3 linked regions of the Homo sapiens genome follow. The protein of the gene in region 1 interacts with the protein of each later gene in a biochemical or structural test. Each region holds a gene or a part of one and is shown in the gene's direction. Other genes may lie near its edges. The genes, in order: EP300, RELA and H3-4.

Region 1 (3,600 bases):
CGGGTTTAAGAGATTCTCCTACCTCAGCCTCCCAAGTAGCTAGGATTACAGGCGTGCACCACCACACCCGGACAAGTTTTGTATTTTTAGTAGAAACGGGGTTTCACCATGTTGGCCAGGCTTGTCTCGAACTCCTGACCTCAGGTGATCCACTGGCCTCGGCCTCACAAAGTGCTGGGATTACAGGCGTGAGCCACCGTGCCTGGCCGAGAAAAAGCTTTTAACCGTATCAGTAGATACTGGTTTCGGGGTTTCTTTCGGGGTCACTTACACCCCTGCCACCTCCTCCAGTACCAATTTACCCATGGCCAAACACAGGGTGATGTGTAGGAACCTGAAAGCACGTCTCCGACCTCAGCTGCAAAACTGTGGAGTCCCACACACTAGACTTTATATTCCAGCATTTCCTCTCACCATTACATTTTTGCTTTTTTCCATCCTTACATTACCTTTACCACATTTTTGTTTTTCCCATAATTACATTAGATAAGGCAATGGCTAGACGTGGTCTTTTACTAACTTGTTCTATTGGGAGCGGACGAGAAAAAAAAAAAAGACAAACCCTAGAAATGTCTTCAGGTCCCAGCCATGTTTAGGAAAATACTTGAAGGCTTCTGCGGTGAGAGTGCTACCTGGTAAGGGCGTATGGACACACGTGGAGGGCAAGAAATGAATTTGGGTCTGGTGCCGAAACATCTTTCCACTGCTGTGATTTTGTTTTCTGGTCAGAGTAATAATGCTCGTTGTAAAATAAATAAATAAATAATACATAAAAAGGAAAAGGAAAATTCAGAGAAAATGAAAACAACTCGTAATCAACGTGCTTTTTGGATGTGAACTGCTCCCTTTGGGAGGGCAATGGAGAAGTGAGGACGCACTGGGTATCTGGCCCGGAACAGCCGGCAGTGGGTACACCCTGCCTGGTGAATTCGACCGGGGTTTTGGGGGACCCGCCACCCAAGGGCCGAAGAGCAGGGCCGCCCTACGGGCGCTCCCATTTGGCCACCTGAGTGGCGACTTGGCGCCTTCCTCGGAGCAGCTCCGGGGTTCCGTCGTCCCGGTTCCCACTGGTCCCTTACGCAGAGACCAAAGGCAGGAACCTTCCCTCGTAACTATCCACCGACTGAAAATAGATTCTGAGTCCGCCCCCGCCCCTCCCCCCTTAAAATCCTCCCCACTCTTAAAATCCTCCCCTTTAAAGGGAGCCACAGGGTGACGCCGGGGGAGTTTGCGGAAGCGCTAACCGCGTTGGGGCCTAGGGCGGATCCCGTGATTGGGACAGGCCCCGCCCCCGGCTCCACTTCCCCCATTGTGTGAGCGGCTCGGGCCTAGGCCCCGCCCCCCTCCGGAGGCCCGGCCACTCCCCTTTTCCACCCCCCCTTGGCTCATTTCCGGCCGCCGCCGCTACCGCTAGCCTGTAAGGAGGATTCGGCAGAGGGAAGAAACAACAGCCGCCATCTTGTTTGTGTGCTAGGCTGGGGGGGAGAGAGGGCGAGAGAGAGCGGGCGAGAGTGGGCAAGCAGGACGCCGGGCTGAGTGCTAACTGCGGGAGCCAGAGAGTGCGGAGGGGAGTCGGGTCGGAGAGAGGCGGCAGGGGCCGAGACAGTGGCAGGGGGCCCGGGGCGCACGGGCTGAGGCGACCCCCAGCCCCCTCCCGTCCGCACACACCCCCACCGCGGTCCAGCAGCCGGGCCGGCGTCGACGCCTAGGGGGGACCATTACATAACCCCGCGCCCCGCGGCGTCTTCTCCCGCCGCCGCGGGCGGCCCCGAACGGAGCCCCGGGGGGCGGGCGCTCCCAGCACCTGGCCGCCGGCGGTGGGGGCCGTAGCAGCGGCCGTATTTATTTATTTTCCGCGGGAAAGGAAGGCGAAGGAGGGGAGCGCGGCGCGAGGAGGGGCCGCCTGCGCCGCCGCCGGAGCGGGGCCTCCTCGGTGGGCTCCGCGTCGGCGCGGGCGTGCGGGCGGCGCTGCTCGGCCCGGCCCCCTCGGCCCTCTGGTCCGGCCAGCTCCGCTCCCGGCGTCCTTGCCGCGCCTCCGCCGGCCGCCGCGCGATGTGAGGCGGCGGCGCCAGCCTGGCTCTCGGCTCGGGCGAGTTCTCTGCGGCCATTAGGGGCCGGTGCGGCGGCGGCGGCGCGGAGCGCGGCGGCAGGAGGAGGGTTCGGAGGGTGGGGGCGCAGGCCCGGGAGGGGGCACCGGGAGGAGGTGAGTGTCTCTTGTCGCCTCCTCCTCTCCCCCCTTTTCGCCCCCGCCTCCTTGTGGCGATGAGAAGGAGGAGGACAGCGCCGAGGAGGAAGAGGTTGATGGCGGCGGCGGAGCTCCGAGAGACCTCGGCTGGGCAGGGGCCGGCCGTGGCGGGCCGGGGACTGCGCCTCTAGAGCCGCGAGTTCTCGGGAATTCGCCGCAGCGGACGCGCTCGGCGAATTTGTGCTCTTGTGCCCTCCTCCGGGCTTGGGCCCAGGCCCGGCCCCTCGCACTTGCCCTTACCTTTTCTATCGAGTCCGCATCCCTCTCCAGCCACTGCGACCCGGCGAAGAGAAAAAGGAACTTCCCCCACCCCCTCGGGTGCCGTCGGAGCCCCCCAGCCCACCCCTGGGTGCGGCGCGGGGACCCCGGGCCGAAGAAGAGATTTCCTGAGGATTCTGGTTTTCCTCGCTTGTATCTCCGAAAGAATTAAAAATGGCCGAGAATGTGGTGGAACCGGGGCCGCCTTCAGCCAAGCGGCCTAAACTCTCATCTCCGGCCCTCTCGGCGTCCGCCAGCGATGGCACAGGTTAGTTTCGGCAGCCCCGGCCTTCCACGTTCCCTTTAATCTTTTCTACTCGGTGCGCCTTTATTCTTCCATTTTTTTTTTCTTCCTCTCTCTCTAGTTCCCTGCCCCTTAATTAATTTTAAAGGTATTTGAATGAGCTGGTCGAAGACGTCCAGTAGCCCAACCATTTTCTTTGCCTCCTAATACATTGATTGCAACACTATGTCATATCGGTGTGTGTTCTGGAATTAGAGCTCGTAAGTGGGTGCTATATAGAAATGGCCTGTATTGTTGCTCTCATGCAATTTAATTTGGGAAATGCCAATGCATTTGTGTGTAAGAGCTCCTATGCAATTTAAGTTTCATTTTTTTTGTTCTTGGCAAATGAATTTCGAATCCTTTCTCTTTACTGTACTTACTGTGTTTCCTCTACTTTCCACTCTTCGAAATTTTCTCTCCTTTGCAGAATATTTTCTGTTGAGGAATAGGGTGTAAAAAAATCTTGATTTTGTGTGTGCGAGGTCCAAGATTTCAGGTTAGAGGTGAAGTTTAACAATTCTTTTATCTTACCTACCATTCTTAGCTTTTTTTTCCTTTTTCTTCTTATTTGCTTTAAGAATCAATATGGAGCGCAGTTCATTTCACATCTCCCAGTTCTTTGGTGTGAGACCAAAATGTCTGAAACTCTGGGTTTTTAGGTTGGGAGAACAGGGGCATGTTCTTTGCAGTTTGCAGTCACTTTCTCATTTTAGGGGAAATAAGATAAACAATTTTGTGGAGTTACGTACCTGGAAATCAAGGTTAGAAGTTGAAAGAGTTCCAATCATGAACTACAAACGTGAACTGATTG
Region 2 (3,824 bases), on another chromosome or scaffold:
TGGGTTCTGCCTCCTCTAGGACTTGTGTTTCACACACGCACCAGCGGCCCTCCCAGCGCAGAGCTCCCTGCCCCCACTGATAGCACCTATATCCCCACTTCCCCTGCTCTCCTGATCGCCTGTTTTCTTGGCAGTTCCTATAGAAGAGCAGCGTGGGGACTACGACCTGAATGCTGTGCGGCTCTGCTTCCAGGTGACAGTGCGGGACCCATCAGGCAGGCCCCTCCGCCTGCCGCCTGTCCTTTCTCATCCCATCTTTGACAATCGTGAGTAGCGAGGGAGACGCAGGAAGGGGAGAGGGTGGGCCTGAATAGGAGGAAGGGGGTTGGGGTGAGTGTGGCCTGCAAGAGGCGCTCTGGCTTCATTCAATCATCTTGCGTATTTGTCTACTCTTCTCTGCCCAGCTCTTTGTTGGCTGGGGAGAGAGGGCAAAGAAGACCCAGAGCTGTCCTTGAGGTGTAGCTCTGGCCTGGCAGGAAGTCTAGCAGAGAGTCTGATGGGAGATGGGCATTTTCAGTATTGTGTGATGAGAAGGTGGTGTGCCCACAACTGCGATAATGACTCTAGGAAATGAACTCCCAGGAACAAGATAGTGTTCGAGAATGATGATTCAGTGATGGAAGCCCACAGATGAATTGGGCTGACTGATCAGCTGCAGTCTTTAGTTAAGTAACCAGCAGGATGAATGGAAATAAAACGAATCTGGAGCCCCAAGGATGGGAAACCAGGATAAACTGGGGGTCAGGAGGGAAGGGCTCATTGCCAAGGTGGGTATGGACTGGCCTTAAAGATTGCTTTGGTCAGGTGGAGAAAGAGTGTGATCAGATTGGCACCCACTGGACTATAAGCTCCGGGAGAGCAGAGAGGTTTGGGTTTTGTGTGTGGTCGTATTCTTGCTTAGATCAGTGTTGAGTGCACAGTAGGCAAATACTTGTTGAATCGGTTGGGGTGAGGAGCTAATAAGAAGGTCTGACTTTGGCTACAAAGGTGTAGGTGGCAAGCTCTGGGCAACCTTGACTCTGGGCTGGGCAGGGAAGTTGCATCTCCTGCAGGCCACCCTGGGGACCTCTCGTGGCTCAGGTCATCCTCCCTTGTTTTCACTGCCTCAGGTGCCCCCAACACTGCCGAGCTCAAGATCTGCCGAGTGAACCGAAACTCTGGCAGCTGCCTCGGTGGGGATGAGATCTTCCTACTGTGTGACAAGGTGCAGAAAGGTATACATCAGGAGGCAGGGGTGGGCTCTTGGGAGCAAGGGGTGAAGCTGAGCAGAGAAGTGGAGTGTCAGGTAACTGGCTTTGGATACTTCCTCCTGTGCCTCGGGGGCCTCAGGTGGGCCGAAGGGTGATGTATCAGAAGACAAGCATCAGAAGTTGAGGGGGAGACCATGGAGGGTTAGACACACTGACCCACACTGCCACCGCATCTCCTGCAGAGGACATTGAGGTGTATTTCACGGGACCAGGCTGGGAGGCCCGAGGCTCCTTTTCGCAAGCTGATGTGCACCGACAAGTGGCCATTGTGTTCCGGACCCCTCCCTACGCAGACCCCAGCCTGCAGGCTCCTGTGCGTGTCTCCATGCAGCTGCGGCGGCCTTCCGACCGGGAGCTCAGTGAGCCCATGGAATTCCAGTACCTGCCAGATACAGGTACACAGCTGGGGTGGCAGCATCAGGGCAGCTGGGCTCTGTGCCGTGAGAGAGAGGCCAAGACTGCATGTCTGGGGCTGTGGTTGAGGGCCAGAAGCTGGAGTCAGAGCTTGGGATCCAAGAAACTGGAATCCATTTCTTGCCTCATTTAATAATAATGATACCTCAGACATTGAGCTAGTACTACACATCTGCCCCTATTCCAGGCACTTCACTGGATTACCTGATTTTAATCTCATGACCCTTTTGAAGTAGGAGATAGTGTCCAACTTGCCTGGGTTCACGTGGCTAGTAAGTAGCAGAGTCTAGCAGAGTCAGCGTTGGAACCCAGGCCATCTGGCTTCAGGATCCTTTTGCCACACTGGTTGTCTTGTCACTACCATACAGCCCAGCCACATTTTGGTCGAGGTTTGAGTGTCCACTTGGTACCAGGGCCTGTGCCAGGTATTGTGAATACAAAAAATGAGTAAGACATGCTCCCTGCCCTTCAGAGTCTCAGTCACTTGAGGAAGACAAATGTGCAAAACAGATCCTTAAGTCACGGAATGACATGTGAAATGGAGGTGTGCGCAGAGAAGCACGGGGGCACAGTGGCCTCCGGGGAGCTGGAGACAGCTGCATGGAGAAGGTGGCATTGAAGCTGGAGAAAGACACAGAAGTGTGTTCTCCAGGCAGGTGGCCCAGCACCTGGAAGGGAAGGGGTGTTGGCAACTGCACGGCCTATTCAGGGCCACCTTCGTGGTTTGAGCTGATGTTGGGCAGTGAGCAGGCTCAGAGATTGGAGGGCCTGGTTAAGCTGAAGGCCTCTAAGCAGAGAGGTGACAGGAGCAGATTTGGAAGTTGACTCAGGAGGCCACGTGTAGAAGATCAGAGACAGACAGACTCAAAGCAGGGAGGCCATTCTGGAAATGTTGCTGTAGTCCAGGAAGAGAAGATGCGGCACAAACCTTACAGAAGGAATAGCAGAGCAAGATCACATCTCCACCACTGTCCTCAGTTACCCTTCAGCCCTGCAGCCGTTTTGCGTCTTACAGACCAAGCTCAGTCTCACCTCAGGACCTGTGTCTAGCTGTTGCCTCTGCTTGGAATGCCCAAGGTTTTAATGCAAGTGGCTCATGCCAGTCCTTCCCTGACCTCTAAATTAGCCCTTCCCTCTACATTTAGACTGTCCTGACCTCACTTCCAGTATTGTTACATCACCATATCGTCCCTGGACCACCGTCACTTGAGATTTTCTGGTTTGGTTTTGTTTGTTTGTTTGAGACAGAGTCTCACTCTTGTCGCCCAGGCTGGAGTGCAGTGGTGCAATCTCGGCTCACTGCAACCTCCACCTCCCGGGTTCAAGTGATTCTCCCTGCCTCAGCCTCCCGAGTAGCTGGGACTACAGGCGCCCGCCACCACATCCGGCTAATTTTTTGTATTTTTAGTAGAGACGGGGTTTTCACCATGTTGGCCAGGGTGGTCTCGATCTCTTGACCTCGTGATCCACCCGCCTCGACCTCCCAAAGTGCTGGGATTACAGGCGTGAGCCACCACGCCTGGCCGAGATTTTCTGGTTTGTATATATGATTGTGTCCCTCTCACTTTTTCACTAGGATGCCAACTTTTTGGGAGCAGACACCTTGTGTGCATACTCACGGCCACATCCCCAGTGTCTAGAAGGGAGGCTGGCACATAGTAGGTGCTTGATAAATATATGTCAAGTTACTGGCGGGGAGTGAGAGAAAAGAAGATAATCATTCCAAGGTTTCTAGCTTTGGTGACAGGGCAGATGGCGGATGGTCAGGGAATGCAGGAGAAAGAACCTAGTTTTTGAGGGATGATGAGGTTGTCTTTGAATTGATGGAATTGAAGTGCTTTGGAGCTACTGAAATACCACTGTAATTAGAAAGACAGTTCTGAAAGCTCTGACTAAAATATGAAACCATTAGAGATAAGAATAAGAGTCTCTGCTGAAGTCTTAAGGCAGTTGTGCCTCAGCTGCCCCAGAGTGCCAAGAAATTCTCGCCAGGCCTGGGTGGAGGCTGACAATGAGCCAGGATGTGAGCAGTGCAGGAAGGTGTGAGCTGGAGGCTGGGGCCCCCCAGGTCTCCTCTTTGCCCAGAGCATGGCCCCTGTACTCGGCCTCACCATGTGGTCTTAGAGGGGCAGATTCAGCCAACAGAGGCCTCCAAAAGCT
Region 3 (2,754 bases), on another chromosome or scaffold:
TGCTCATGGTGGAAGGTGAAGGGGAACCCATGTATGTGCAGAGGTCACAGGGCTGCCGCGAGAGAGGACGCCAGAGAGAGAGGGGAGAGGGGTGCCAGGCTCTTTTCAACACCAGCTCTTCAGGGAACCAACAGAGTGAAAACTCACCCTAAAGGAGGGCAGGACTCTATTCAGAGGGTGACACCCCAGGACCCACACACCTCCCACTGGCCCCCCCCTCCCTGGGCTCCAACTTTAGGGATCAAATTTCAACTTGAGAGTTGGAGGAGATTTGGAAGCTTCCACCTCCCGTCCTTGATGATAAGAACGTTCCCTTGCTTTTACTATAAGGAGAACATCTTTCATATGGGAATTTCATCTCTTGTATTTAAGAAACAACAAGAAATTCAGAATGATCTTCCTACACCTGCTTCTTCTTTTTTTTTTTTAAGTGCCTTTATCTCAAAATAGACAATATGCCAGAAAGGCACATCTTTACCTTCTTCAGAATCCTAAGGCTCATCTAAGCCGTACAGGTAAGGGAGTTCTTTGCAGGTCATAAAAAGTGGGAGATTCCTTTAACTCTGGCTGCATCCCAGAGCTTTGTCACTGTGTAAAAGTGGAATGCCGGCCGGGCACGCTGGCTCACGCCTGTAATCCCAACACTTTGGGAGGCCGAGGCGGGCGGATCACGAGGTCAGGAGATCGAGACCATCCTGGCTAACATGGTGAAACCCCGTCTCTACTAAAAATACAAAACAAAATTAGCCAGGCATGATGGCGGGCACCTGTAGTCCCAGCTACTCTGTAGGCTGAGGCAGGAGAATGGCGTGAACCCGGGAGGCGGAGCTTGCAGTGAGCTGGGATTGCGCCACTGCACTCCAGCCTGGGCGACAGAGAGAGACTCCGTCTCAAAAAAAAAAAAAAAAAAGTGAAATGCCAGCTGGGCCTGGTGGCTCATGCCTGTAATCCCAGCACTTTGGGAGGCCGAGGCGGGTGGATCACCTGAGGTCAGGAGTTCGAGACCAGCCTGGCCAATATGGTGAAACCCCATCTCTATTAAAAACACAAAAAATTAGCCAGGCATGGTGGCGGACACCTGTAATCCCTGTAATTCCAGTTACTCGGGAGGCTGAGGCAGGAGAATCGCTTGAACCTGGGAGGTGGAGGTTGCAGTAAGCAGAGATCACGCTATTGCACTCCAGCCTGGGCAACAAGAGTGAAACTCCATCTCAAAAAATAAAAAAATAAATTAATTTTTTAAAAAAGTGGAATGCCATGTGCTGGCTTCTGGAAGGCTCTTGCCACCCAAGTCATGGGGAAGGGAGAAGAGGAGCGCTGAGAAGACATGAGGAAGCTTGTGCTGGAGAGAGATGATCCCCACCACCGCGGCCTACCCGCATCAACCCTTCACAATGCTGGTGCCAGCTCTGGTGGCCACGACCAACAGGCATGAATATAAGGGAGAGGCGCCCGAGTGGAGTTCCCTGTGGGCCAATCAGAGAGCAGTGGGCCATCACGCCACCTGAGGCCAGCCAATGGGAACGCGGCAAGCTCTATAAAAGCGAGCAATCCGCTGAGGTCTGGGCAGAGGACACCGCGGGGCCAACAGTTTCGGATTCATGGCCCGAACCAAGCAGACTGCGCGCAAGTCAACGGGTGGCAAGGCGCCGCGCAAGCAGCTGGCCACCAAGGTGGCTCGCAAGAGCGCACCTGCCACTGGCGGCGTGAAGAAGCCGCACCGCTACCGGCCCGGCACGGTGGCGCTTCGCGAGATCCGCCGCTACCAGAAGTCCACTGAGCTGCTAATCCGCAAGTTGCCCTTCCAGCGGCTGATGCGCGAGATCGCTCAGGACTTTAAGACCGACCTGCGCTTCCAGAGCTCGGCCGTGATGGCGCTGCAGGAGGCGTGCGAGTCTTACCTGGTGGGGCTGTTTGAGGACACCAACCTGTGTGTCATCCATGCCAAACGGGTCACCATCATGCCTAAGGACATCCAGCTGGCACGCCGTATCCGCGGGGAGCGGGCCTAGGAGGGCTATCTCGCCACCTGAGAGGTTGCGCAACGTTCACCCCAAAGGCTCTTTTAAGAGCCACCCACCTGGTCGAAGAGTTGCTGTAGCAAGCTAGTCTCTTGGGTTTCGGGGGGTTCCTTCCGCTGGCCTGTGCTGGCTTACCTACTTCTGATTAGGGTGGGAGGCTGGTGAATCCTGTGTTCACCCTGTCCAGTTAGGAGGCCAGCTACTCACACGCGTTACCTCTCAGCCTGTCTCCAGTCACAAATCCAGCTAGTAGTGTGTGGGGCTAACTTGGCCTATCCGTTTAGATAAGAATCATGGTTGGTCTGTTTTGGGGACGGGGTGTTGAGGGTAGCCTAATTGGTCTATCTCCAGTTAGGTAAGCAACCCCAGCTAGTTGTGTCAACTCAGCCTATCTACAGTTAGGTTGGAAGGCTGGCTGGTCTTGTGTGTTCTCAGCTCAGCCTCTTTCAAATTAGGTTAGAAGTCCTGCGTGTGTGTGTGTGTGTGTACACGCAGCTTGTTTCCAGTGAGGTTACCAGTCCAGCTAGTCTTCTGCCTTGACAGCCCATCTCCTGTTAAGGCCAGCAAGTAGTATGTATTATCTTGGCCTATTTTAAGTTAGAAGTCCAGCTACTTCACCAGCATAGCAGCTTACGCCTGTAATCCCAGCACTTTGGGAGGCCGAGGCGGGTGTATCACCTGAGGTCAGGAGTTCCAGACCAGCCTGGCCAACATGGTGAAACCCCATCTCTAA

The links.
Region 2: the proteins of EP300 (region 1) and RELA form a complex in vitro, tested with the Homo sapiens proteins (6 studies listed by BioGRID, with this or other methods).
Region 3: of the proteins of EP300 (region 1) and H3-4, one has a biochemical effect on the other in vitro, tested with the Homo sapiens proteins (5 studies listed by BioGRID).

Annotation. Positions count from the first base shown.
Region 1 is NC_000022.11:41,090,328-41,093,927, forward strand, and holds the start of EP300 (histone acetyltransferase p300), read left to right. Parts: upstream 1-2,264; 5' UTR 2,265-2,677; coding exon 2,678-2,771; intron 2,772-3,600. UniProt on the Homo sapiens protein: Functions as a histone acetyltransferase and regulates transcription via chromatin remodeling. Acetylates all four core histones in nucleosomes. Histone acetylation gives an epigenetic tag for transcriptional activation.
Region 2 is NC_000011.10:65,656,108-65,659,931, reverse strand, and holds part of RELA (transcription factor p65), read left to right. Parts: intron 1-134; coding exon 135-266; intron 267-1,109; coding exon 1,110-1,214; intron 1,215-1,432; coding exon 1,433-1,645; intron 1,646-3,824. UniProt on the Homo sapiens protein: NF-kappa-B is a pleiotropic transcription factor present in almost all cell types and is the endpoint of a series of signal transduction events that are initiated by a vast array of stimuli related to many biological processes such as inflammation, immunity, differentiation, cell growth, tumorigenesis and apoptosis.
Region 3 is NC_000001.11:228,424,173-228,426,926, reverse strand, and holds H3-4 (histone H3.1t), read left to right. Parts: upstream 1-1,566; 5' UTR 1,567-1,601; coding exon 1,602-2,012; 3' UTR 2,013-2,082; downstream 2,083-2,754. UniProt on the Homo sapiens protein: Core component of nucleosome. Nucleosomes wrap and compact DNA into chromatin, limiting DNA accessibility to the cellular machineries which require DNA as a template.